Linked DNA regions of Homo sapiens. The protein of the gene in region 1 interacts with the protein of each later gene in a biochemical or structural test. Each region holds a gene or a part of one and is shown in the gene's direction. Other genes may lie near its edges. The genes, in order: NCOA6, RARA, THRA and LAMTOR5.

Region 1 (7,027 bases):
GCATTATACTGGGCTCTGTAGCTTCAGAAGTTTTTAAGGCAGAGTCACTTCACTTTGGGTATGCAGCCCCATGAGTGAAGTAGACATGTGAACAATCATAGTTCAGGATGGTCGATGCCAAAGAAGAGTTATTAAACGCTATAAGGACACGGAGATGGGTGTGTCTGCTCAAAGAATCAGGGAAGGTGTTGCGAAGGGGTGACATTTGAGATGTGTCCTAAAAGATACAGGAATTTGCCAGTGAAATGGAGAGAAGGGCCTTTCAGGTAAAGACACGTTTTCAGGGAATGTATTAATAACTGAATGTGGCTGGAGCATAGAATGTGTGTGAAAGCATGGCCAGAGATGAGACTAGGAAGACCATGTTAGGAACCTGGTTGTGAAGGACCTTGCTAAGGAGTTTGGACTGAATCCTTAGCTGAGAGAGGCATTCAAGATCTTCGAGAAGGGGAGTATGTGGTGGAGGTTTAATTTCTAGGAGATAAATGGATGTTCTTTGGAAGGAGGGTAGACTGAAGACCAGAGAGGTAATGAGGATCTGAACTAAGGCAGAGACTGTGGGCACTGAGCAGAGTTAGAAGTAATGAGGATCTGAACTAAGGCAGAGACTGTGGGCACTGAGCAGAGTTAGAAGTAATGAGGATCTGAACTAAGGCAGAGGCTGTGGGCATTGAGTGGAGTTAGAATTTGCAGGTGTTGATTATTGACATTGTGAGTGGCTTAGGGGGAGTTTTTTAAATTTCTGGTTTGGGGTGGTGTCTGTCAAAGAGGTTTAAAAAAGTGAAAGGAAGTCTGGGCGTGTTGGCTCACGCCTGTAATCCCAGCACTTTGGGAGGCCGAGGCGGGCGGATCACGAGGTCAGGAGATCGAGACCATCCTGGCTAACATGGTGAAACCCCATCTCTACTAAAAATACAAAAAATTAGCCGGGCGTGGTGGCGGGCGCCTGTAGTCGCAGCTACTCGGGAGGCTGAGGCAGGAGAATGGTGTGAACCCGGGAGGCGGAGCTTGCAGTGAGCCGAGATCGCACCACTGCACTCCAGCCCAGGCAACAGAGCGTGACTCCGTCTCAAAAAAAAAAAAAAAAGTGAAAGGAAAATGAGGGGAGAATTCTCATTGATAATAAGGGCGAAAAGGTTTTTTTGGCAGAGTAATAGAGTTTTGGAAACCATTGCAAAGCTGTCAAGTGTGGTGTAGTTTTTGGTTAAGGAAATCAGAGGTGTCAGCAGACATAAAAGACAGGGGAAAACATGGGAAGTGTCCTACCTATAGTGTAGAAAAAGCACAACTATCTATGTCAGAGGTCGACAGACTGTGGTCCATAGGTCAAATCTGGCCCACGATCTGTTTTTGTAAATAACGTTTTATTGGAACATAGCCACACTCATTTATTTATATATTGTCCATATCTTCTTTTGTGGTACCAATAGCAGAGTTGAGTAGTCGTGACAGAGATGTGTTGTGTCAGCTCACAAAGCTGGAAATACTCTTTACAAAAACATTTGCCAACCCCTGATCTATGTGTTTGAGTGTTGGATGTTCAACCTCTAATTTGCCATCCAATGTCTATATGATGATAGAGAATGAATAAACGTCTTGGCTCTGCCCTTTGGGCTGGATTACCCATGCTCTGTGTACCTGCAGCATAACACAGACCCCTGAATATTTATATCAGTCAGTGATGGCAAGGTCTATTGTTCTGGAGTGTACTGTGTGGTAACTGTGGTAGTGCCAGCTTTACACGGATTAGATAATGCTCGGGCTTGTTTTGCCATTTTTTTTATTGGGTTGTCTTTTACAAAAGATTTATTTATATATTCTGATTATTAATCCTTTGTTGTTGGTAGATATTACAGATGTCATTTCCCAGTTTCTTGCTTATTTTAATTTTTTTTTTTTTTTTTTTGAGATGAAGTCTTGCTCTGTCGCCCAGGCTGGAGTGCAGTCGTGCCATCTCAGCTCATTGTAACCTCCGTCTCCCAGGTTCAAGTGATTCTCTTGCCTCAGCCTCCCAAGTAGCTGGGACTACAGGCATGTGCCACCACACCTGGCTGATTTTTGTGTTTTTAGTAGGGATGGGGTTTCATCATGTTGGCCAGGCTGGTCTCAAACTCCTGACCTCAAGTGATCCACCCGTCTTGGCCTCCTAAAGTGCTGGGATTACAGGTGTGAGCCACTGCGCCTGGCCTGTTGCTTATTTTAAAACATCTGTTTTAAGGTGTCATTTGTTAAAAAGTTCTGAATTTTAGTATCAACTTTATCAATCTTTTCCTTTAAGATTTGCAGTTATTCTTTGTTTTGAGGCAGGGTCTCGCTCTGTCACCGAGGCTGGAGTGCAGTGGTGCGATCTCGGCTCACTGCAGCCTCAACCTCCTGGGCTCAAGCAACCCTCCCACCTCCCATGCCAGTTGAGACCACAGGCATGCGCCACCATGCCCTGCTACTTTTTGCATTTTTTGTAGAGGCGGGGTTTCGCCATGTTGCCCAGGCTAGTCTGGAACTCCTGAGCTCAAGCAGTCCACAAAGTGCTGGGATTACAGGTGTGAGCTACTGTGCCCAGCCTGCAATTATTCTTTATATTCTGGAATACCTACTGTTGTTTTCAATGGTTAGATCTTTAATGTATCTGGAATGGATTCTTATGTGTAGTGTAAGGTCGGGTCCAGTTTCATTTTTTTTCCCTATGTATAACCAGTGATCCCAGCATCATTTATTGAATGGGGCTTGCTTTCAAATTGTGAGCTCTTTTTGGTGGAGTCTGTCTCAGGTCCTTATTAAGCACTGCTGCTTGCTGATTGTGTGACCTTGGACAAATAAAACCTCATTGCGCCTCAGTCTTTAAGGATAATAGTAATCTCATAGGGTTTTGTGAGGATTAAATGAGTCAATATACATAACGTGTAAAACAGTGCTTGGCACCTAGAACATGCTCAATAAATATTAGCTGTACTTTAGCACTACTGTTCATTTCTGATTCCTCAGCACCTGGTACAGAGCAGGGGCTCATTTTGCTCAATTAAATTGCCAAATTAATTTGGTTTTCAGGTCAATCAGAATGGTGAGAGTTGGGCTGAGTGTTGCAGGAGATGCTTCCAAGGAGCTACTTAGTTTTAGGGGCTGCCTTAGATTATCTGCTAGGATAGAACTCTTCTCACGCCATCACTTTTGCAGAGAACTTCTGTAGCAGAGGTTGCAAACTGGCAACCTGTGGTTGGATTTGACCTGTATAAGTATTTTGTTTGGTTTACACAATATTTTTAATGTCTTAAAAATGTACACAGACCTCTGAGTTTCTGACTTAACCTTGAAAAATTGGAAGATCTGTCAACAGCAAGCCCATATTCATTTATAGCGGTAACCAGCTGAAACTTTTAGGTGAGATGTGTTTCCTAGTTCTCCATAGTCTGCCTTGCTGTCTTGCTTTGCTCTTTATTTTTATGGCCCTGCAGACATTTAATTTTCTGATTCTTACTTTATTGAGGTATTGAATATTGTCTCCCCCAAACCAGTAAATGACATATTGGGATGGTGGGGGGGATGGCCAGAAATTGACAGATGAGTTTGTGGGCAAGTAAATACTAAAACCTATTTCTAAGGATGAGCCATACTTGATCATAATGAATAGAATGATAAATGAAATTAAAAGATGAGGTGAAATTCAGCTTAGCTCCTTGAATATTTAGGCATCTACTATGTATTAAGTACTGTATTAGAAATTACCACATTGGTGATAGAAAATTAGCTGGCCAGCTTTATGAAATACTGTAGAAGAACTCTTTTTACTTGTATTGTGGAGCTGTTGTCTAAGAGAGTGGTTGGACGAGAAAGGAAATATAGGTATTATTTTCTCAAACATTTGTTGAGCCCTACCATGTATTCTGGAAACTGGCTAGAACTCTGCAAGATACCAAGATGAATCTAGCCAAGGTTTCTATGCTGAGGAATGTCTGTAATGTGTTATGGAGCTGGGATACTAGAGAATGGTACCTGAAAGAGGTGGTCTGTGAACGAAGCTGCCAAGAATAGTTAGTATCTTAATACTTGGAGATGAGACAGTGCTGTATTTTCCAGGCTGAGTGAAAGCATAAACACAGAGGTGGGTATTTAGGAGATGGTAAAGAGTCCACTTTGCTTGGAGAAGAGGATTGTTATAAGGGTGTTGTTGGAATTAAGGGTGGAAATGGAGATGAACAATAGTAACAATAATAGATAAAACCTAAAATAAATAAAACTTAAAAAAATTAATAGTAGTAGTGGCTTTTCTTTCCCCCCAGTGTTCTTTGGGTAGGGTTTTTTTGTTTTGTTTTGTTTTGTTTTTAAATAGAACCAGGGTCTTACTCTGTTGCCCAGGCTGGAGTGCAGTGGCGTGATTATAACTCATTGCAGTCTTTAATTCCTGGGCTCAAGTGATCTCCTGCCTTGGTCTCCCAAATTGCTAGGATTATAGGCACAAGCCATATGCCTGGCCAATGGCTCACATTTTTTGCATGCTTACTATTTGCAAGATAATGTGCTAAGTATTTCATAAGTAGCATTTTATTTAATCCTTACAACAACCTGATGAGGTAGGCACTGGTTTTTAATCCCTTTTTACATATAAAATGAAGAAGAGAGCTAACAATTGATACAGAAAGTATTTGAGTCCAGGTAGTCTAATTTCAAAGCCTGCCTTCCTAATCTCTGCATACCATATAATCAAATCATGGAAGGCTTTGAATACCCATTTCTATTCCAAGCTGGGAAGTTTGAACTTGATTGACTAGGTAGTGGGAAGTCATCAAATGTTTTTCGCCAGTGATGTGATGAAAGCTGTACGTTAGGAAAGGAAGCCTGATTGTGAAGTGTAGGATCAGCATGGGGAGAAAGGAGAGATATGGAGCTAGTTTACTCTCTTACTTCTCACTAGATTGGGTGAGTGCTCCTTTAGGACTGGGCTGGTGTCTGTCTCTGCCTTCCCCCTTCCCTCCCTTCAGCTCCAGTGTCTGCCTATTTTGATGTCTGGTATATTCATTTATTTTTTTAAATGTGATCTTTTTCTACCTCACCTTATTCTAAAAAGGACATAAAGTAGCTGCCTAGGAGCTCAATAAACATTCTGAGTTAATTAGTAAATAACTAGAGTTACATTTAGATGTATACACAAATGAAATACTATGGCTTTGATGGAAGGAGGAATGCAGCCCTAGAGTTGGTCATATGCTTTATTTGATATACAATCTCTATAAAGCAGAAGGCCAGGACCATACCTTTACTTTGTGATGAATTGTGTATTCTATGTCAGTTATAATATTCATTATCAGTTAATAAATTAACTATATCAGTTAATATTAATGAGCACCAAATTCAGAGGGCATTCATACTTTAAACAGATATTTCAGTTTGTATTTAGCATTAACCAGCTGCAACCCCTCCCCCTCCGTCACACACACAAAGGCAACAAAAGTTCCCATTAATCAGCTCCTTTACTGATATTGAATCTGTTGAATATCAGTTCCGTAGTACCCATTTATATACATTTTCTTTTGCTTTTGCTTTTGCTTTTTTGTGTGTGTGTGTGATGGAGTCTCACTCTGTTGCCCAGGCTGGAGTGCAGTGGTGAGATCTTGGCTCATTGCAACCTCCGCCTCCTGGGTTCAAGTGATTCTCCTGTCTCAACCTCCTGAGTAGCTGGGACTACAGGCAACTGCCACCACGCCCAGCTAATTTTTTTGTAGTTTTAGTAGAGATGGGGTTTGACCATATTGGTCAGGCTGGTCTCGAACTCCTGACCTTAGGTGATCCACCTGCCTCGGCCTCCCAAAGTGCTGGGATTACAGGTGTGAGCCACTGCACCCAGCTGCTCTTTTTTGTTTGTTTGTTTGTTTGTTTGTTTTTGGAGACAGCATCTCACTCCCTTGCCCAGGCTGGAGTGCAGTGGTGCAAACTTGGCTCACTGCAACCTCTGCCTCCCAGGTTCAAGTGATTCTCCTGCCTCAGCCTCCCAAATAGCTGGCTCATACCTGTAATCCCAACACTTTAGGAGGCCAAGGTGGGTGGATCACTTGAGTTCAGGAGTTTGAGACCAGCCTGGCCAACATGGTAAAACCCCATCTCTACTAAAAGTACAAAAATTAGCCAGGCGTGCTGGCATGTGCATCTAATCGCACCTACTTGAGAGGCTGAGCCTTCCATCAATTCTTGGTGCTCCTTGGCTTGTAGCTGCATCACTCCATCTTTGCCTCTGTTGTCACATGGCGTTTTCCCTGTATGTCTCTGTGTCCAAATTTCCCTTATAAGGTCACTAGTAGGTCCCACCCTACTCCAGTAGGAGTAACTTCATCTTAATTGATTACCTCTGCAGCGACTCTGTTTCCAAATCAGGTCACATTCTGAGGTACTGAGAGTTAAGACTAACATATTTGGCAGGGATGGGATTGGGGGGCACAAGTCAACACATAACAGGTAGTGTTTGAGATAACATAGAGGCATTAAATTAAAATTTATTAAAATGGAAGGGTAAGATTGCAACAAATGGGATTAAGGAGAGAGTAACCAAAGGAATGATGGACATAGGAAAATGTAAGGAATATTTAGGTAATGAAATAGTGAGAAGTCTGATTTGCTGGTTTGTTGAGGAGTTGTGGAGAAGTGAAGCCGACGTACTTTCTTGGGGCCCTGGATGCCAGGTCTAAGACATTTGAATGTTGCTGAGTGACCAGTGTGTGGGAGCAGGATGGCACTGCGGAATTTTGAAATGGTAGATAATTGATTCAAGCTTTGAGTAACTGAGTCAAGTTTTAGAGACATTCTAATATGATCAGGTGATCATGGATAAGTAAACACCCTGTAGAAAAACAGATGGTCAATGACAACACACCCAGCCTCCCTCATTTTCCTATGCCAGTAACTTTTGCCAGCACAATAAAGAAATCTCTCTTCTGTAAAACAACAAACTTTGAGGGTTTTGTTAGCCCTCTCTTCTTGGTGAGTCATCTGTGGGCATTGAGAGATACATCAGCTTTTCAGGGTCTCCATTCAAAAGCCTCCC
Region 2 (7,027 bases), on another chromosome or scaffold:
CCTGCCCTTTGGGTGCCCACAATGTGGTTGGCACTGATTTGTCAGAAATTGGGAAGGTTTCCCTCTAGACCGCTTGCCTCCTTTCTCCTCCTCCCGCAGGGTAGGGGCAGCTCTGTGATTGCAGGCACTTATGGGCAGGCCTCCCCCTAGGAAAGGGGTGTGGGATGCCCCCAGGATGGCCAAGTTGGCGCTAGCCCCAGGCTGGAGTGCTGGACATGATTCTGACCTGGGAGTTAGTGGGGGTAAGGCAGGGCATGGGCCTCCCTGCCCCCCTCATTTCCTGCTCTTTGGGCAGCTGTGGGCGAGAAAGGCTGCAGGGACTATTTTTAGTTGGTCAGTCCCCTGGCAGGAGGGACGTGCAGAAAAGCACGGGGCAGGCAGAGGGGCTGGCCAAGGTGAGGGTAAGCAGGCAGGCAGAGGAGTGAGGAAGGGCCAGAGGGGCAGAAGACAGCAAGGAGGCATGGGGAGCAGGGGCAGGACCTTACCCAGAGGGGCATGACCCAGGTAGATGGGCCGGGCTGGACTGGGTGGAAGAGTCCTGGCACCCTACAGGGTTTTCTTTATCCAGCTGGACTCAGAGCTGGAAGGGGTTTTAGAGGCTACCTAGGCAATCCCTTCCCCTTGCAGAGAAGGAAACTGAGGCCTAGAGAGAACACTCAATCAGTCATTGGCTGTGTTGAGACCTGAACCCAGGCCCTCCCTTTGCACCATTTTTCTGTTGTCATGGTTCCTCACCACAGCTCAGTGTGCTTCCCTTCCCTACTGCAGCAAGGAGGACCACGAGCCAGGCACACCTGGTCCATTTTCCCATCTGCTTTTTTGTGCAGGGTCTCTGAAAATCCCAGCTTGGTTTGTTTATAAGTCTCCATGTGGAAAGAGTCTGTGTCCAGGCTAGAAGGAGGTCAGAGTTGGGTTTGTTTGGGTGGCCTGTGGCCACTGGTGTGAATGGAGCTGCTGGACAGGCTCCAGCAGGCTCACAGGCTGGTGAGCTGTGGGGCTAGGAGACACCTTACAGAAGGGACGTCCAGACTCCCCAGAGCCCTTTGTGAGCCCTCCTCCTGCCCTGCCCAGGACCTGTGGGTCATGGTGGTTGTTTGCCCATCTCCCCAACAAAAGAAGGGAGCAGGGCTGAGGAGTGGGGAGATTACTACTGGCTTCTGATCGCTAGTCAGAAGGAGGCCCCCTCTGAGGCCTGGAGGCAGGGAAAGTTGGGGCAAGTTGGGGTGTGTATGGGGAGAAAACTCAATGGAGAATTGTGGTCCCTCAGAATTCAGTCTGCTTTCTGTCTTCTGCCTCAGGCTCTCCCCACAGGCCACCATGCTGCACAGCTGCAGGGGGAACCATTCCATAGACTATGATGTGAATGGCACCCCCTGGGGTTGTTCAAGGCCCTGCCTGTGTAGCCACACGTGGTGCATCTGTCTCCCACCTTCTTCCTTCAAATTAGTTCAGACCCACCTGGAAGGAGGTGTTCCAGACAGGCCTTAATCCAACACCCTCTCCCCTACCCTGCCTCATGCCACTCAACATCTCCTATTCCTCTGCTGCCCACCCCCAACGCACCAAGCAAGTCATGGTGCACCACCAATTGTGGTTCAGAAGCCCCTCCCCTTCTCTCTACGCAGTTTCTGTGTCTCTTGGGGGCTGATTTATCATACCCCCCATCAAGCCTACTGCAGTGTGTGAGAAATCAATAGTGCAAATGGATTGAGGCTGTTTAGCCTGTCAACTCTCCTTGGGCCCCACCAACTCTTCTGGGACTTGCGGAGTTGCTCAGTCCCCTTCTGGCTCAACATACACATATTTAGTGGTTGTAGCCAGAGCACTGAGCACAGGAATTATTCTTTCTGTTGGTCTCTGTCTCATTCTCTCTCATATACTAGGCTGGTCTTAACATGACAAATACTCTTGAACATTTATTTTCTAGCTTGGGTGGACGGGCTTAAAGGGCAGTAGGCTGCCAGCCAGAGGTAGGGAGGGAGGCAGGTGGGTGAGGGATATGGCGGGTGGAGGGGTGGGGTGGGGGTGGGGACGAGCTGGGGAAGGGATTGGGTGACAGCCCACCCCATCAGCTCTGGTAACTCAATCCCTGCACCCCACCCTCCCAATTTCCCTCCTGCTCAACAACTTCAGCAGCTGCTGGCAGAAGCAAGGCTGGCAGAAGTGTGTTTGAGTGCATGTGTATATGAGGGGAGAGGGTGAGAGGGGCTGTGGGGGCAGGGAGTGCTGCCAGGACATGTTAAAGGAGACTCACAGCCTGGGTACAACTTGGGTGGCAGGAGGAGGTGGGGCAGGTGGGAGAGTGGGTGGTGAGTGATGGGCAGGCTGCAGTGGGGGCAGGGCAGCACAGGGGTCTCACAAAACTTGTTGGCACTGGAGCGGGGCCTGGTGTGGTGGGGGTGGGCAGTGGTGAGGGGGCAGGGGCTGGCACAGACATTGCTGGCCCCAGAATGCTGAGGCCCATTCTTTGCCAGGGGGCGCATGTAACCATGGAGGGACAGTCTGCCCCTGTCTGCAATCCTTGGGCTGTGCCTGCTGGGCATCACAGTCTTGGTGGTGACTAAGTCACTTCTGTCCTGGGGCTGGCAAGGTGCCAGGCTCAGCTCTTCTCGGTAGGTGAGTCACTGCCCTGGCATCTCCCCCGGATGCAGCTGAGTCACCCAGCCATGCCTGCTAGGCAGGTGGGCACCAGGCTTGTGGTGGGGGTGGAGGGCTATGTGTGCAGCCCCCAGTGTCTTCTCTGATCTCTCTCTGGCATGTCCTGGCCCCACCCATAAACCTGCAGAGCCAGGCAAGGATGGCGCTTCTCCCTTGTGATCCACTAAGGGGTGAAGGAAAAGGTAGCAGGGCACAGAGTGGAGTCATACATGTTTGATTTGGAGTAAGTAGGGGAGGAAAGAGTTGAGGAGGGAACATTGATTGGGTTATATGTATATATATATATATATATATGCTTATATGTGTATATATATATATATATATATATATATATATATATATATACACACACACACACACACACACACGTATATATTTATTTATTTTAACAAAAAAGACACAGGGTCTTGCTATGTTGCCCAGACAGGTCTTGAACTCCTGGAGTCAAGCAACTCCTGGCGTCCCATCTTGGCCTCCCAAAGTGCTAGAATTAAAGGTGTGAGCCACCATACCTGGCCTGGGTTTGAATCCCAGCCCTGCCATTGACAAGCTGTATGACGTTGAGGAAGGCAATTTTCTTTTTGAGCCTCAGTTTTTTCATCTCTACAATGGCAACAGGAGCCTGCCCCTTCAGGACTGTGAGAATCAAATGGAGTGGGACTATTAAGGTACTTGTGGGAGGAGCTCCTTTTGGGATGAGCTAGGAGGCTTGGGAGGGGAAGAGGAGTCAGCTGGAGCTGGTTCCAACAAACTCCCGCACCATGGTCTTGGAGGGCCAATTGCTTCTCATCATCTCTTCGGAGTATCACTTAATGCTGTTCTTCAGGAGTTTCCACAGGCTGTGAGAAGACAGCCTTGTTGTACTAGAAGTGTGGGCCCTCCTAGGGTGTCTCAGAGCTATATTTTATCTCTTTTGACTACTGAGAACTGCCACTGGCCCTGGTACCTGTCCAGACTCTCTTCCTTCACTTCCTCTAGTTTGAAGAGGGATGGGGCTCAGACTCCTCCCCCAGCCTATCTCCTGTGTGCAGGGAAACAGTAGGCCCCAAGGAGTGTCCTTCTTAGAGTGAGGCGCCCCGAGCCTGTGGCTTTTCTCTCTCTGCTAGTTTCCTGCTGCTCCCTGGGTACCCTTCTCTCCTCCTGCATCAGAGTCCCTGGTGGGAGGGGGTGGTGGAAGCCCTGTTATGAGCCCAGCATAGCTGGAGTTCAACTGCTGCTGCAGATTGAAGACTCCTGGTCCCCCACCTGGGGACCTCTCCTGCCTTCTGCAGTCAAGCTTGGGTAGGGCTGGGCCTTGGACAGGTGGTACTGGTTTCCCTGGACAGGAAGGAAATGCCCCAAAGATGTGCATGCTTTGTGTTTGTACACACGGGTGCTGGTCTTGTTTGAGTGTCTGACCCCTGCGGGGGGTGGGTTTGTGTGTATGAATTTCTTCCCTCATCCACACATGGGGCTACTTCTGTGTCTGTGCAGAAGTGTGCCCCACCCTCTGCTTCATGCCCTTGTCTGTGCACAAATGTGTTTGGATGTACTTGTTCATGCGTGGATGTGCATACATGCGTCGGGGATGTACACATCCCTGCCCTGAATGTGCACGTGGAAATGCATTTGTACCAGGATGCCTGACCCTATGATGGCAGGTGTACCTGAAGGTCGTCCCACTTGGGAGGCAGTGTAGCTGTGTGCATGCATGCTTGCATTCTTGTGTCCATGAGCCTTCCCCTCCAGCCTCAAGGAAGGAAGACAGGTAGGATCTAGGTTGGGAGGTGTCCGTGGGCACTAGGGGCGGGCTGGCGCTGACTCCAGTCCTGGGCTGGTTCTCACCTGGGCAGAGCTCCCTGCTGTTGGCGGGGCTCAGGCTGGAAGGCCCTTGGGGGAGCGCGGCTGGGGGGTAAGGGGTTAAGCGGTGGCGTCCACATCTGGGAGCCATTGGCGCATTCCTGCCGGCTGAGCGCATGTTTGCGGATGAATCTGGACAGGACAGGGCGGGAGGGGCTGGGCGGGAGGTTCGCACCGGCGGACGGAAATCCAGACGGGAGCGGGAGACAGCTCCGGCCCAGCAGGCGGGAAGGGGCCTGGGGAAGCGCGGCCCAGCACTGCTGGGGCAGTTTCCCGTGCGCCGGCCCTCAGGGCAAAGGGTCCCGCCATCCTGGCTTGTCCTACCTTACCATGGCTCTTGGGCTAAAGCCAGGGACAATCAGATACTTCAATTCTAGACCCGGCTCTGCAACCGGTGCGACTGTGCACAAAACCCAGTGCCTGCTCTTGGACTCTCTTTCCTTGTTTGTAAAGCGGGGTCCGTCGGACCAGTGGGTTTGAGAGCTCTGCCACCGGGTCAGGCTGAGAGTCTCCTCACTGGGCTGGAGGCCTGGGAGTGCAGCACTTCCCCTTCCAGTGGGAAGTTCTGTGGGGGCACTTGTGGCCACTTCTCTGCCTGGGAACAGGGCGAGAGGGGAGTATTCTAAGCAATTCTGCTTCCCCCTAAGCCCGCCAGTGGACTGCTAGCGATGGGGACAGGATCCTCCCAAACAGAGCTGCAGGCTGGGAGGGGGGTCATGACTGTATTGGGGACTGGGGGTCTCTCAGATGGAGGGTGATTCAGATCCTGTCCAGCTGGAACATGAAAAAGAGCTTTCCTGGCTTCTCCAGACTTGTTCGGGAGAGAGAAGCTTGAGTGTGAGTCTTTGAGCACGGAGGGGTGCTCCTGGGCGCCCCTACTGGAAGATCCAAAAGTCTTGCCCTTTGAGGAGAAGAGTACTTTAAGGGGGCTGGGAGGGTTGGGTTGAGCCAGGGTTCCTAGGACCCACTGGAGCTGCAGAGGTGTTTGGGGAAAGAAGAGATATACTTGCGGGAGATCTACTCCTGGACTCTTTTTTTTTTTTTCTTTTTCTTGCAGCTGAGATAATTAAGATCCAGGGAAGGGAAGTGACTTGGTCAAGGTCACACAGCTCTCAGTTCCAGCTGGTCCCTAGAAGAGGATTATAATTATAGGATTCAGGGGCTTGACAGCTAGGGCAGGAGTCACCGCACTCACTTCCATATTACGCCGCCGCCTCACTTCTCAGATTTAGGTGTGGGTGTGTGTGTGGTTGGGGGGAAAGGAGTGTAGGATACCACACGCTGCGGTCTTCTCCACCGAGCGCTATTTTCATTCTTTCCGCAGAACCTCACCCCGTTCTTGCTCTGAATCTTCGGTTCTGGGTCTGAGGGAGGGATTCTCCCGGATTCCCACGGTCCAGTCTTCAACTAGGAGTGGCTCCTTTAAGACTCGCCCTTCCCGAGGTCTATTAAGGAGAGGCGGGGGCGGGCGTGAGCCTGTAGATCCGCCCCTGACTGGTGATTGGTCGGTGGGCGGGCAGGGGCGGGCCTGAGGGACAGGGCCTCCCCCTACCTCTGCTCCGTACCCTCCGCCCCTTCAGTCTGGGGCTCCGGGTAAAGTTTCAGCCTCCGCACGTGACTCGCTATGGCCGCTGCCATCGCCCCGCGCCCCTGAGCCGCGGCCCCCTGGACGGCTCCTCTCCCGGGACCCCGCACCCTGATGCCGAGCAGCACCAGGGCGCCGGGTTAGGGCAGACGCTGTGCTCGCTGGCACCCCGAACGGGTTGCTTCCCCCGCTGCGAGGTAATTCCTCCCCTGGGGATTTTGGGGAGCCCCTGGTTCCCGCAGGCGTCGGGGCCCCATGTCCTGCCCCAGATTGGTGCTGCGGGAGGGGACTGGGTACCGGGAGGCTTCCGACGGGAACCCGGGGTTTCCTGGGCTTCCCAACTCGCTGCCGCCGTGTCCAGGGTGGGGGAGCCCCGTCTGTGAGTCTGCCTGCGCCGTGTCTTCGCGCGCAGCCTTGAGGCGTCTGGGGCCGTCTGCTGCGCGTGTCCCCCGCGCTCGAGCTGTTGCAGAACCGCCGCTGGGAACTTCTGTTCTTTTTCTCTTTAATGATAAGCAAAACAAAAAGACTTGAATTCAAACCTGTTTGGGGAGAGATCGGATGCTCAACGGACTAGCCCCCTCTCTTTTTCCCTCCTGTTATCTGAGCTGCCCTGTGGTTTGGGGAGAATCAGCCAGGGGGCCCACTCCCACCAGAGGGAGCCGGCCGGGGGCCGGGCCGGTTCAGCTGGTGTCCCCCGTGGAGTGAGGGGAACCGTCAGAATTGGGTGCGGGAGCCAATGCAGTATGTGTGTAGGGGTGTTCCTGGGTCTTGTGCCACCATGGGGTGTGGGAACTTTTTGGGGTGAGGGGAAGACGGAATAGACTGACTTGTCGACTTTGCTCTGCTGAGGGTGTCTGGGACCTGGTGCCACCCACGAGGCTTGGAAGCTGCTGGCCAGATGTGTGTGTGAGCCTGTTGTGGGGTTGGGGGGACGGCTGGGAAATG
Region 3 (6,565 bases), on another chromosome or scaffold:
GACAAGGAGCAATTCCTGTAGGTCAACATACACAGATAACATACACAGACACACACACACACATGCATACACATACACCCAGCACACAGGCACACATGCAGACACATACACGGACACACACACACACCTAGCATACAGATACGTACACAGACACACATACACACACACATACACCCAGCACACAGACACACACACACCTAGTACACAAACACACACACAGATACATAGAAACACACACAGACATATACACCCAGCACACAGACACACACACACACACAGACACACACCCAGCACACAGGCACACACACACACACACCTAGCACACAGCCACACAGATACATAGACACACACACACAGATACAGACACACACACACACACAGACATATACACCTAGCACACAGACACACAGATACATAGACACACACCTAGCACACAGACACACACACACAGACACACCCAGCACACAGGCACACACACACACACACACCTAGCAGACACACACATAGATACATACAGACACACACACAAACACACAGGCACACACACACAGCATACAGACACACGCCAAGGTCTGGCTGCTCTAAGAAATCAGCCGGCTCCAAGTGCTCCCCTCCACAGCCCCTCATCCTTCAAGTCTATGCGGCCACCCAACTCCAGGCAGCCTGAAAGTTCTCATTTTCCAGAGCACTAGTGCTGGAGACAGGCTGCCCTACTAGCCATGTGACCTGGGGTAAGTTACCTCCATCCCCTGTGCCTCAGTGTTCCCATCTGGAGTGGGCTGGGGATAATGATGGGTGCTAACTCACAGGCATAATTTTTTTTTCTTTTTTGAGACAGATTTTCGTTCTGTCACCCAGGCTGGAGTGCAGTGACGCGATCTGGGCTCACTGCAACCTCCGCCTCCTGAGTTCAAGCAATTCTCCTGCCTTAGCCTCCTGAGTAGCTGGGACTACAGGCATGTGCCACCACGCCCAACTAATTTTGTATTTTTAGTAGAGATGGGTTTCACCATGTATGTTGGCCAGGCTGGTCTCGAACTCCTGACCTCAAGTGATCCACCCGCCTTGGCCTCCCATAGTGCTGGCATTATAGTCGTGAGCCACTGCGCCGGGCCTCACAGGCATAACTGTGAGGCTTAAATGGAATAGGGCATGCACATGGCCCAATACAAGGTCAGCCGTTCAGAGTCCATGGGGGCCTTGCGGGCCTCACGGCTCCCGTAGGACACTCTAGGGGAGACTCAAGGACGCGGGGAGGGGTATGCTGAGTGCTCCTGTGGCCCTGCCGCTCCACAGCTGCCTTGCGAAGACCAGATCATCCTCCTGAAGGGGTGCTGCATGGAGATCATGTCCCTGCGGGCGGCTGTCCGCTACGACCCTGAGAGCGACACCCTGACGCTGAGTGGGGAGATGGCTGTCAAGCGGGAGCAGCTCAAGAATGGCGGCCTGGGCGTAGTCTCCGACGCCATCTTTGAACTGGGCAAGTCACTCTCTGCCTTTAACCTGGATGACACGGAAGTGGCTCTGCTGCAGGCTGTGCTGCTAATGTCAACAGGTACCTGCTGATTAGTCGGGAGGGCTCAGAAGCTTCCAGGGGTCCCAGAGATTGGCTGGACCCTGGGCCTGTTGCTCAACTCCCTCCTGAATCTTCTTCTGGGCTACCTCTCTGTCACCTGGGCCATCCCCTATCCCCTGTTCCTTGCTCTGTCACACACTTCTCACTCGTTCCCCAGGCCCATCCCTTGCCTCCCCATCCCTGCTCTGTGCCTTTTCCTGTCTTTGTCTCCTTCCTTCTCGCTGCCCTGTCCCTCTGTCACTCACATTCCCCTTTGTTCCCCACTCCCCACTTTGTTCTCAGCCACCTTCCATCCCCTCATCCCTCCTCTGTCTCCCAGTCCCATCTCTTACCCCTCAGTCCCCTCCCTAACCCCATCTGCACCCCGCCTCTCTGACCACCAACCTCAGTCCTCCCCACTCCAAGGCTCCTCTCTCTCCCCCAGCCCCCGGCCTGTCCCTCTGTCCTCCTTGCATTGCCCCCTCCCCCCAGTACCCCCCTGCCCCTCTCCACTTCCCAGCTGCCTCCCTCTCCCTGTGCTTCTCCTGTCCACGTCTCTCAGGGGGAGCTTCTCCCCTCCCCTCCCCCAGCCTCTCTGCCTCTATCTCCCCTCTAGTCCTTTCTTCCCACGTCCCCACACCTCACCCTCCCCATCTCCAGGCCTTCGGCCAGCCCCTCGCCCCTCACGCCCCTCTTCCCTCACAGACCGCTCGGGCCTGCTGTGTGTGGACAAGATCGAGAAGAGTCAGGAGGCGTACCTGCTGGCGTTCGAGCACTACGTCAACCACCGCAAACACAACATTCCGCACTTCTGGCCCAAGCTGCTGATGAAGGTGACTGACCTCCGCATGATCGGGGCCTGCCACGCCAGCCGCTTCCTCCACATGAAAGTCGAGTGCCCCACCGAACTCTTCCCCCCACTCTTCCTCGAGGTCTTTGAGGATCAGGAAGTCTAAAGCCTCAGGCGGCCAGAGGGTGTGCGGAGCTGGTGGGGAGGAGCCTGGAGAGAAGGGGCAGAGCTGGGGGCTGAGGGAGACCCCCCCACACCCCTTCTCTCCTTCCTCTCGTCCTTGGATAGATTCAGCTCCCACACACACACCCGCACTGCCCAGGTCCCTCCTCAGACCTCCAGCCCTGGGACAGGGCAAACAACTGAACTTGCTATGGAAAGGACAGTGTGGGAGGCTGGGGGAGCTGTGTCCTGCAGTTCCCAGGACCCCATCCTCTCAGAAGGTAGGGGAAGGGCGGGAGGATTGAGAAGGGACAAGCCACCTTGACCGTAGGGGAAGGAGGAATGTGGGCTGGGGGAAGATGCCCTCAACTCACCCCCTACACACACATGAGAGAGAGCCCCCACCCAGTTCCTTGGCCTAGGTCTCCCCTCCAGGCTGAGGGCCTCTCTACTTCCCCAGATGCCTGGGTGCAAAGAACGGCTTGGCTTGGCTCCTCCTCTGGAGGTTAAAATTTATAGTCATTCTAACTGCACTTTGGAAACCAAGCAAGGGGAGAAGACAAATGAAGAAAAACTAGACAGAGAGAAAAATACAAAAAAGAGAGAGCGAGCGATAGAGAGAGATGATATTAAGTTATTAACTGAGGCTGACCAGAGGGGAGGACCCCCCCTTTACCACCCCATGCACTTTGCGAGCTGCCCCTTCTTCCCCCACATCAGAGAGAAATGCCCCCACACCAGAGCCCCAAGGGTAGGGCTGCCGATCAGAGCTGTGAGTTAACACAACAGGGTCCTGGCCACCCCCCTTGCCATACCCCGCCCTCTGTGCCCCTTTGGCACCCCCCAACCCTAGTATGTCCTCTGCTTTCTGCCACTCGTGCCCGCTGAGTTCCATCTACCTCTCATGCTGGATGCCAGCTGGCCCCTCACCAGCCTGCCCTGCTGCCCACACAGCTCCCCTTTAAGTGCCCAGCCCTAGGGGCCTCTCCCCATCCACCTCCTCCTTCCACACCTTGGCACCCACCCAGGAAAAAACTGTGGCTCCAACTCCTACCCTCCTTATATCCTGCAGTATTAGCTAGAAACCGGATGCTGCTGCATTGGTTGGGTCGGGGGTAGGAGGGCTGTGCGTGAGCGTCTCCCAGAACCCTCCACCCCTTTAGCACTCTGTTTCCCTGTTTCCCATCTGTCTTCTGGGCTCTCTCTAACCTCTGCCCTCCTCCCCAGCTCCTACTCACTGCACTAACTCTGGGCGGGCAGGTACCAGAATGGGGGTGTTTAGATAAGTGACACTTAGTTGGGGCCCCAGGGGAGGGGTGGTCGGTGCTCCTTTTTCTTTAAAGCTCTTTTGGCCAGCTGCCCCTCTGCCCCGGGACCCCTTCCCCTCTTCTTTTCTCTAATTCAGGGACTTTGGCTTGAGCCCCTCTCGCCCTCCTGGTGAGGGTGCTCTGTTGGTCTGCACTTGGGTGAGCTGTCCTCCTCCCCCTCCCTGTGGCTGCCGCCCACTCCTCAGGGGAGAGAGGGAGAGAGGAGGTGGTCCTCCCATGGGAGCAGGAGGTGGGGTGGGACAGAGCAGACCAGAGGGTGCTGGGCTCAGGGCTGCATGTCGGCAGGGATGGATGGGTGGACACAGATGCCCCCGGAAGCCATGGGGATTGGGGCAGGGGGTGGGGGGAGGGGTGCCAGGGCTTCCTGCGCTTTGCACTATTGGGGCAAAAATGTCTTAAGCAGTGGGGAACCTGCCACCCCACCCTGACCCTCAGCCTGCCACAGCCCCCTACACACACACACACACACACACACACACACACACACACACGGACATGCACACACGGACATGGGAAGGCAATGCTATGCTGCCCGTCAGGGCACTGTCCTTCCCCAATCGTTCAGGTGTTCCAACAGGGGTGGAGGGCCTGGAGGAGCACCCGCTGTCACCTGTGCATGTGCCTGTCCCACCCTGCTGGGGCCTCGGGCTGCCCGCGCTGTCTTTGTCTCTATCCTCTCTCTCTCTCCTGGAGTACTGAATCCTGTATTACTCCAGTCCCATGGGTAGGCCCTCTTGTACCTTCCTACCACGCCTGGGGGCCCAGTGGAATTCCTGACCTGTCTGCTGTCTTCCCCATCCCTCCATCCCCACCCCAACCCCTCCATCCCCATTCTCAGCCATGGACACGGCAGAGAAAAGGCCTTGAAGAGCCTTAGCCTCTTATAGGCACTTGGGACTCCCCCACCCTCCCCAATCATATGAGCTGTGATCCCATCCTCCCCGGACCCCTCCCTTCCCCCTCGGTGATGTGGGGTGTATGTGTGCGTTCCTCTGCGTGAATGTGTGAGTGAGTACACATGGTAGGGGAGGAGCCAGGGCGACTCAGGAGTGCCACGCACCTGCTCTAGAGCGGCAGCTGTCCCAGTCCCTGCTGTGGAAGTGGGGGACAGGGCCCTCTCCTGGGGGCCATTGGTGCTAATGAGGGGGATGGCCTTGATGTGGGTGCTCAGCATGCCTCCCCCAGTATTGGCCCGGGGCACTAGGGCAGGCAGGGTGGAGCAGCAGGTGCAGTATCGGTGGGAGGACGGGTTGCTGGGAATAGGACGAGGGGGCCAGGCCAGGACAAGGGGTTGCCAGAGCCATGACCACTACCCCGCCCCCACCACCCGCCTCTCCATCTCAGTATTGCCCCTCCCATCACTCATAACACACATACCTCATCCAGCCTCCTCCCTGCTCAGACTTGGGGAGGGTGGGGGAGGAGCCCCTACCCCTTCTCCTGGTGGCGGGTCTGCAGGGCTGGGAGAGGGCAGGGCGTTGTGAGAGAGAGACCGTCCATAAGGAGGACAGTAACTCCTGCCCTGGGAACTCCTGGGCGGGGGGGAGGGGGACACTGCCCAGAGGCGCTACTGAATGTATGAGAAGCTGGTGCTGGGCTGGGGGGAGGGGGGTTGTGGCCAGAAACAGGGAAGGAGGTAGGTCTCTTCCCCAGGGAGGGGTGGGACCGGCAGGGGTGACTTGAGGGGCTCCTACTCCTGCCCCACGTTGACAATCAGTATGTCTGTTATGTGCGATTTTTCACCCCGTTGTGTTTTGGGTCAGGATTTTAAAGAAAGATATTTTTATGGTAATTGTTGCTCGTCTATTTTACTATATATTTATGTAATAAATATATGATGAAAATAACCCCCTTGGGCACCCCCCTTAGACTTGTGTGCTGTTTCCCTATATCCTCCCATCTGCTGGCAGAGTACCCACCCCACAAACTGACCAGATGGAGAGGTGGCCCCCCCCAGCCTTGGCAGTATTTCCACCCCACCCCCCAAACGAGCACACACCACAGAAGCCAGCTCAGCTGTGAACTATTGGATTTGAGACAGGAACAGAACAAATCAGAGGGCCAGGGGAGGGTTGTGGGGGAGACAGAGTGGTTTAAATAGGGGAGGAGGGGAAGTTCGGTGATGGGGGAGGGAGGCAGGTATTTACAAGAAGGCTCAGGGGGCCAGAGGCTCATCTTGGAATATTTTATAACAATATAAATAAGATTCTGGTTTGCTTTTCCTTTTCGTCTCGTAAAGGAGAGAGAAGTGCAGAGTTCGATTCTGTACAAGGGGGCAGCGGCAGAAGGCCGGCCGGGCGGGTCACTGGGCGTCCACCCGGAAGGACAGCAGCTTCTCGGAATGCATGTTGTTCAGGGTCCGCAGGTCCGGCAGCTTGAGCAGCAGCTTGGTGAAGCGGGAAGTCTCCAAGGGCCGGTTCTTCAGCACCAGAGCCCGAAGAGCCCGCAGCAGCGTCTCCTGGAGCTGCTCCACCGAAGCGGAATTCTCCATGCCCGAGCGGTCTGTGGGGAAGACGACAGCAGTGAGGCGGACTCCCCGAGCTCCTCTGAGGAGGAACCGGAGGTCTGCGAGGACCTGGCAGGCAATGCAGCCTCTCCCTGAAGCCCCCCAGAAGGCCGATGGGGAAGGAGAAGGAGTGCCATACCTTCTCCCAGGCCTCTGCCCCAAGAGCAGGAGGTGCCTGAAAGCTGGGAGCGTGGGCTCAGCAGGGCTGGTCACCTCCCATCCCG
Region 4 (7,032 bases), on another chromosome or scaffold:
CCCACAAGCTAAAGAAAGTAGAAAACAAGGGTCAGATACTTTCCCCAACCATCACTCCAGCCCCTAGCACTTGCCCAATTTATATATACTATTCCTCTCCCATTGCCTACTTGCACAGGGGCAAGACAGCAGCAGGGCAGAGAAAGCGGGGGTGGTAAGGAGTAGCCTGCTCTCTCACCTCCCATGTGGCAAGGACATGTGAGCCAGCTATCATCCTCTTCCTACTTGATTTCCCTTCAAAGGCCTTCCTTATAGCTTAAAAAGCAATCGCCAGTCTTTCGGAGAATCCTTTTTTTTTTTTGAGACAGGGTCTCATTCTGTCACCCAGGCTGGAGTGCAGTTGTGCAATCTCAGCTCACTGCAGCCTCAACCTCCCGGGCTCAAGTGATCCTCCCACCTCACACAAAGTACTTGAGACCACAGGTGCGCATCACCATGCCCAGCTAATTTTTGTGCTTTGGTAGAGACAGGGTCTCCCCACGTTGGCTAGGCTGGTCTCAAACTCCTGGGCTCAAGCCATCCGCCCACCTAGGCCTCCCAAAGTGCGGGGATTACAGGCGTAAACCACCATACCAGGCCTGAAAACTACCATGCCTGGCCTGAGAATCCTTTAATCACTGATCTAGCTTTGAGATAATTTGAGATATCCTTGGGCTACACTGGCCAATACTGTGGCCACTAGCCACAGGTGGCTGCTGAGCACTTGAAATGCGGCTGGTCTGAATTGAAATGTGCTGCTAACTGAAAAATATACCCTGGATTTTGAAGACAGTACTGGAGAAAAAATATAAAATATCTCATTAGTATTTTATCAATCACAAGTTGAAATAATATTTTGAATATATTGTTTGAATAAATAAAATGTTATTAAAATTAGTTTCATCTGTTTTACTTTTTTTTGAGACAGTCTCACACTGTAGCACAGCCTGGAGTGCTGTGGCTCAATCTCGGCTCACTGCAACCTCCAGCTCCCGAGTTCAAACGATCCTCCTGCCTCAGCCTCCTGAGTAGCTGGGACTACAGGCACGCACCATCACACCCAGCTAATTTTTGTATTTTTAGTAGAGATGGGGTTTCGCCATGTTGGCCAGGCTGGTCTCAAACTCCTGACCTCAACTGATCCACCCATCTCGGCCTCCCAAAGTGCTAGGATTACAGGCGTGAGCCACTGCACCCTGCCCTGTTTTACTTTTTTTTTTTTTTTTTTTTTTTTTTTGAGACAGAGTCTCGCTCTGTCGCCCAGGCTGGAGTGCAGTGGCGCGATCTCGGCTCACTGCAAGCTCCGCCTCCCAGGCTCACACCATTCTCCTGCCTCAGCCTCCTGAGTAGCTGGGACCACAGGCGCCCACCACCACACCCGGAGAATTTTTTGTATTTTTAGTGGAGACAGGGTTTCACCGTGTTAGCCAGGATGGTCTCAATCTCCTGACCTCGTGATCCACCCGCCTCGGCCTCCCAAAGTGCTGGGATTACAGGCGTGAGCCACCGCGCCCGGCTGTTTTACTTTTTTTAATGTGGCCACTAGACTATATTGCCCAGGCTGGACTTGAACTCCTGGGCTCAAGGGATCCTCCTGCCTCAGCCTCCTGAGTAGCTGGGATTATAGGCACGTGCCATTTCACCAGGCAGTACTTATGTTTTCTAATGCTAAGTTTTAAACTGCTTTTTCTAAAACTTATATGGCCTGTACTGTGTTACCCCTAACTTAACATGAATAATTTCTCTAGAGCAGGAGTCCAAGACCCCTGAATTATAACATTCAAACTGGAATTTTGGCTGGGTGCAATGGCTCATGCCTATAATCCCAGCACTTTGGGAGGCTGAGGTGGGCGGATCGCTTGAGGTCAGGAGTTTGAGACCAGCCTGGCCAACATGGTGAAACCCCATCTCTACTAAAAGCACAAAAATTAGCCACGTGTGGTGGTGCATGCCTGTAATCCCAGCTACTCGGGAGGCTGAGGCAGAAGAATCGCTTGAACCAGGAGGCAGAGGTTGCAGTGAGCTGAGACGGCGCCACTGCACTCCAGCCTGGGCGATAGAGCAAGACTCTGTCTCAAAAAAATAAAGAAATAAACAAACTGGAATTTCAAGGAAGCTGCAAGCTTCACTATGACAGCTGCGGAATAAAAAGGGACTCTGAATGCCAGTGCAGTGTATTGGACTTTGGTTCAATACCAAAGTCTGGTATCTTCCGATCTGGGAGCTGGGCCCCAGATTGGAAGGTAGGCTGTGAGTAAAAAGCTGGAGGTGACAGAGTTGGAAGAAACTTAGTGCAAGGAATGATCCACAGAGGGGGTGAGGCTTACCAATTTGAGTAAATTAGCACCACTTTTTCGGGAGGCAATTTGTAAGTATGTATCAAGAGTCTTAAAAAATGATCATGTCCTTTAACCCAGTCATTCCATTTCTAGTAACTTATAAGGAAATTTTAAAACTGCACAGATATTTAGCTATGAGGATATTCAACCAGCATTGTAATAGCTAAAACAAAAAACAAACAAAAGCAAAAAAAAAAAAAAAAGTCCAAGTACAGTGGCTCACCTGCAATCTCAGCGCTTTGGGAAGCCAACGAGGGAGGGTCACTTGAGACTGGGCTACACACTGAGACTCCATCTCTACAATTTTTTTTTTAATTAGCTAGGTGGGGTGGCGGGTCCCTGTAGTCCCAGCTTCTTGGGAGGCTGAGGTGGGAAGATCGCTTGAACCTAGAAGGCTGAGGCTGGACTAAGCCATGATAGTGCCACTGCACTCCAACCTTAATCCACAATTAAGATACAGCTATAAAATGGAATATTTTGCAACTACTACAAAGGATGTAAGTGAAAACTTGACATGGAAAGACATTTATTCTAAACTCTGTAAAGAAGGCCAGCTACAGAATTGTACCTCCAGTATGTATGTCAATTTTGCTTACAAAACAAACAAAACAAAAAAAACCATGCTAGGCGTGGTGACTCAGCCTGTAATCACATTTTGGGAGGCTGGAGTGGGAGGATCTGTTGAAGCAAGGAGTTTAAGACCAGCCTGGACAACACAGCGAGACCCCCATCTCTACAAAAAAACGTAAAAATTAGCCAGACATGATGGCTCGAGGCTGTGGTCCTAGCCAGTCGAGAGGCTGAGAGGTGAGGATAGCTTGAACCCAGGACGTCCGGGTTGCAATGAGCTATAATCGTTCTACTGCACTACAGCCTGGGTAACAGAGCAAGACCCTGTCCCCCAAAAAATTTATTTTAAAAAGGCAAACGAAAAAACATTAAAAGTATACATTTACAAAGACAACTATCTGAAAGGATATTCTCCAAGAAGTTAAAAGTCGTCTTTGGACAGTGGGGCCATAGATGTTTTCCTATTTTTACCAGCTTTATAATTAATTTTTAAAAGTTATTTTCAAGTAGTCCTACCCAGTCTTCCTTACGAGTTAGGACTCAAATGCCACTCTCTTCCCCTAAACTGTCCTGAGTCCCCTCACCATAATAAGCACCAATGTCTTCGTTAAAATCCCGACACTGCCAACACTCAGCTAGGGGGTTGAACCTTGCTCCATCTCGTCCTTTAGTCTCTGTGTGCGTCTTTCCCCCTACAAGCCTACTGACCCCCTCCAAGAGGTCCCGTGTCTTCCCCGTACTTGCCCCACAGGCTAGATCAGACCCTGTCTGACCCCTGGGTTATTGTAAAACTTAAGATCTGTCCCCTAGGTCTCGGAGTCGGTTGAACTAGGGTCCAAAGGTTAAAAAACACTGACACAAAATGCCAGGCCACGAACTGAAGCACTGAGGCCCGGCTGCAGACCTCTCCCGAGAGGGGAATAATCCGTGCCGGCCGGTTCCGCCATGGAGCCAGGTGCAGGTCACCTCGACGGTCACCGCGCGGGGAGCCCAAGCCTTCGTCAGGCTCTGTGCGACGGAAGCGCAGTGATGTTTTCCAGTAAAGAACGCGGACGTTGCACCGTGATCAATTTTGTCCCTTTGGAGGCGCCGTTACGGTCCACGCCCCGCTCGCGTCAAGTGACTGAGGCCTGTGGTGGAGAAGGACGTGCCGTGCCGCTGGGTTCTGAGCCGGAGTGGTCGGTGGGTGGGATGGAGGCGACCTTGGAGCAGCACTTGGAAGACACGTGAGTAGTGCGCGCCTCTTCGGCCTGTCCTGAGGTCGCGGCGGAGGAACTTGAGCGGAACGAAAGGCGCGAGCTGCGAGTACCGGCCAGGGCGTCTCGGGGACGTCGCGCGACCCCCGGGACACGGGATGAGGGGGCTAAACTCTACCCAAGGCCGCAGGGCGGGGCGGGTGACCCGGAATTAAAATCCTGCCGGGCACCGCACATTCCCTCTTGAGCGAGTCTCCCGGGCCCAGGCCACGGGCCAAAACTGCCTATCTCGTTGTTGAAATCGTCTTTACGGTCAGGGTGGTTCTGCGGAAGTTTTAGAAAACGGGTTGACTTTTGGGAAGATTGTGCCAGTTGTGCAGTGTCGAGCCCTGCAGTGTAAACAAACACGTATCTCCTGTGTGTAACCTATCAGTTACTTGGTGCTTAAGTAGATAAAAATCATTCTTTAAATTTTTCGAACAAGCAGTATCTATGTAAAATTCAAAACTGGAAAAGTGTAAAGGGTACAGAGAGACACCTGCCTCCCACCGATGTCCCTCAGCTTCCACTTACCCTCCAGGAGGTAACTTGAGTTTTTCAACAGTTGTTTTAAATGAGTTAGTACTAAAACATGCGTTTTTAACAAGAGTGAAAACATCCTAGATGTTTTTCACGCAGTGTTTGTGGCCCTCCAGAACTCAGCAGTACTTAGCACATTTTTTTCTCTCATCAGAGAGAAACTGGTTTATTTCAATTAATTAACTAGAACTTAAATTTTTTGTGTTCTTTTTTTGAGACGGAATTTCGCTCGTCTTCCAGGCTGGAGTGCAATGGCGTGATCTCGGCTCACTGCAACCTCCGCCTCCCAGGTTCAAGCGATTCTCTTGCCTCAGCCTCCCGAGTAGCTGGGATTACAGTCATGCGCCACCACGCCTGGCTAATTTTGTATTTTTAGTAGAGACGGGGTTTCTCCATGTTGGTCAGGCTGGTCTTGAACTCCCGACCTCAGGTGATCCGCCCACCTGGGCCTCCCAAAGTGCTGGGATTACAGGCGTGAGCAACCGCGCCCGGCCCTAGAACTTAATTTTTTTCTTAGGGTGTGACAATGAAAAAAGATTGAGAAATATTGATTTAAAGCACTTAATGCCTGGTACATAGAACACCTGTATGTTTGTACTTATTTAAATCCTTTTTCTCCCATTATGTACTTCAACTCTCTTGTGTTCCTGGAATTAGAATGAAGAATCCCTCCATTGTTGGAGTCCTGTGCACAGATTCACAAGGACTTAATCTGGGTTGTAAGTATCTCTCATACCAACTATTTGATGAATTGCATAGCATCTGATGTTGACTTGGAGCCTAGCGTGCTATTATTTTCTAGCTTTTATTTCCTGTTACCTTGCCAGGTCTTTCTGAGTTTGAGAGTAGAGATTATCTCCAAATAACAGTATCAGAAAATTGAAACTTTTCAGTTGGTATTTATGAAGGAAGATGTTCCTTGCAGTCCTATAACAATAAATAGTTGTCTCTACTAAAAATAATATTTGAATCATTTTAAATTGAGTCTAGAAAGGACTTCAGATAATAACAGCTGTTAACCATTTATTGAATGTATGCCATATGCTGAGACTGCTAGGCTCTAAATACATTATCTTTAATTTTCACAACAACCCGGCAAGGTGGGTGGTGTACAATTTTGAAGCTCAACTACACTAAACAAGAAGTGAATAGGCAGTAAAATGGGATTTCAGTGTTGGACATACCTGGTCTCAATCCCTTGCTCTTTCATTTGTTAGTAGTGTGAACGTGGACCAAAAAACTACCTTTTAGGCCCTCATTTTCTTCACTGGGTTGTTATTTGATAATGGTAATAATCATAGAATTATATTTATTGAGCTGTTATGTGCCAAGCACCATTGTAAGTGCTTTACATATACTCTTTTATTCCTCATAACAACCCAGTGAGGTAGAAAAAGAAATTGAGGGACCAGGTGCAGTGTCTCACGCCTGTAATCCCAGCACTTTGGGAGACCAAGGTGGGCAGATCACTTGAGCCCAGGAGTTCAAGACCAGCCTGTGCAACACAGTGAGACCCCCCATCTCTATTTTTACAATAAACATATATATATGTTTTTAAAATTTAAAAAAAGAGGCCGGATGCGGTGGCTCACACCTGTGATCCCAGCACTTTGGGAGGCGGAGGCGGGTGGATCACCTGAGGTCAGGAGTTCGAGACTAGCCTGGCCAACATGGTGAAACCACATCTCTACTAAAAATGCAAAAAAAAATTAGCCAGGCATGGTAGCAGGTGCTAGTAATCCCAGCTACTCGGGAGGCTGAGGCAGGAGAATCGCTTGAACCTGGGAGGCAGAGGTTGCAGTAAGCCGAGATTGCACCATTGCACTCCAGCCTGGATGACAAGAGCGAGACTCTGTCTCAAAAAATAAAAAAAGAAACTGAGACACAGAGGTTAAATAACTTGCCTGAGGTCATGCAGCTAGTAAGTCGTTAAGCTAGGATTTTTGTCTGGCCCTGAGGCCTCTTAATCACTTTTTTTTTTTTTTTTTTGAGACGAAATCTTGCTCTGTCGCCCAGGCTAGAGTGCAGTGGCACGATCTTGGCTCACTGCAACCTCCATTTCCCAGGTTCAGGCAATTCTCCTGCCTCAGCCTCCTGAGTAGCTGGGATTACAGGCGCCTGCCACCACGCCCAGATAATTTTTGTATTTTTAGTAGATACAGGGTTTCACTATGTTGGCCAGGCTGGTCTCGAACTCCTTATCTCAGGTGATCCACCCACCTCCGCCTCCCAAAGTGCGGGATTACAGGAATGAGCCACTACACCCGGCCTAATCACGATATTTTAAGGTTATATAATATGTATAAAATGCTTACATAGAACTGAGACATAATACTTAATAAATGGTAGCAATTACACATGAGGAAATA

The links.
Region 2: the proteins of NCOA6 (region 1) and RARA form a complex in vitro, tested with the Homo sapiens proteins (3 studies listed by BioGRID).
Region 3: the proteins of NCOA6 (region 1) and THRA form a complex in vitro, tested with the Homo sapiens proteins (2 studies listed by BioGRID).
Region 4: the proteins of NCOA6 (region 1) and LAMTOR5 form a complex in vitro, tested with the Homo sapiens proteins (one study listed by BioGRID).

The regions. Positions count from the first base shown.
Region 1 is NC_000020.11:34,815,650-34,822,676, reverse strand, and holds part of NCOA6 (nuclear receptor coactivator 6), read left to right. Parts: intron 1-1,037; exon of another isoform or gene 1,038-3,375; intron 3,376-7,027. UniProt on the Homo sapiens protein: Nuclear receptor coactivator that directly binds nuclear receptors and stimulates the transcriptional activities in a hormone-dependent fashion. Coactivates expression in an agonist- and AF2-dependent manner.
Region 2 is NC_000017.11:40,312,170-40,319,196, forward strand, and holds part of RARA (retinoic acid receptor alpha), read left to right. Parts: intron 1-3,023; exon of another isoform or gene 3,024-6,582; intron 6,583-7,027. UniProt on the Homo sapiens protein: Receptor for retinoic acid. Retinoic acid receptors bind as heterodimers to their target response elements in response to their ligands, all-trans or 9-cis retinoic acid, and regulate gene expression in various biological processes.
Region 3 is NC_000017.11:40,086,946-40,093,510, forward strand, and holds the end of THRA (thyroid hormone receptor alpha), read left to right. Parts: intron 1-1,296; coding exon 1,297-1,555; intron 1,556-2,260; coding exon 2,261-2,511; 3' UTR 2,512-6,057; downstream 6,058-6,565. Other genes in the region: NR1D1 (nuclear receptor subfamily 1 group D member 1), read right to left, coding at 6,138-6,337.
Region 4 is NC_000001.11:110,404,668-110,411,699, reverse strand, and holds the start of LAMTOR5 (ragulator complex protein LAMTOR5), read left to right. Parts: upstream 1-4,079; coding exon 4,080-4,114; intron 4,115-5,320; coding exon 5,321-5,382; intron 5,383-7,032. UniProt on the Homo sapiens protein: As part of the Ragulator complex it is involved in amino acid sensing and activation of mTORC1, a signaling complex promoting cell growth in response to growth factors, energy levels, and amino acids.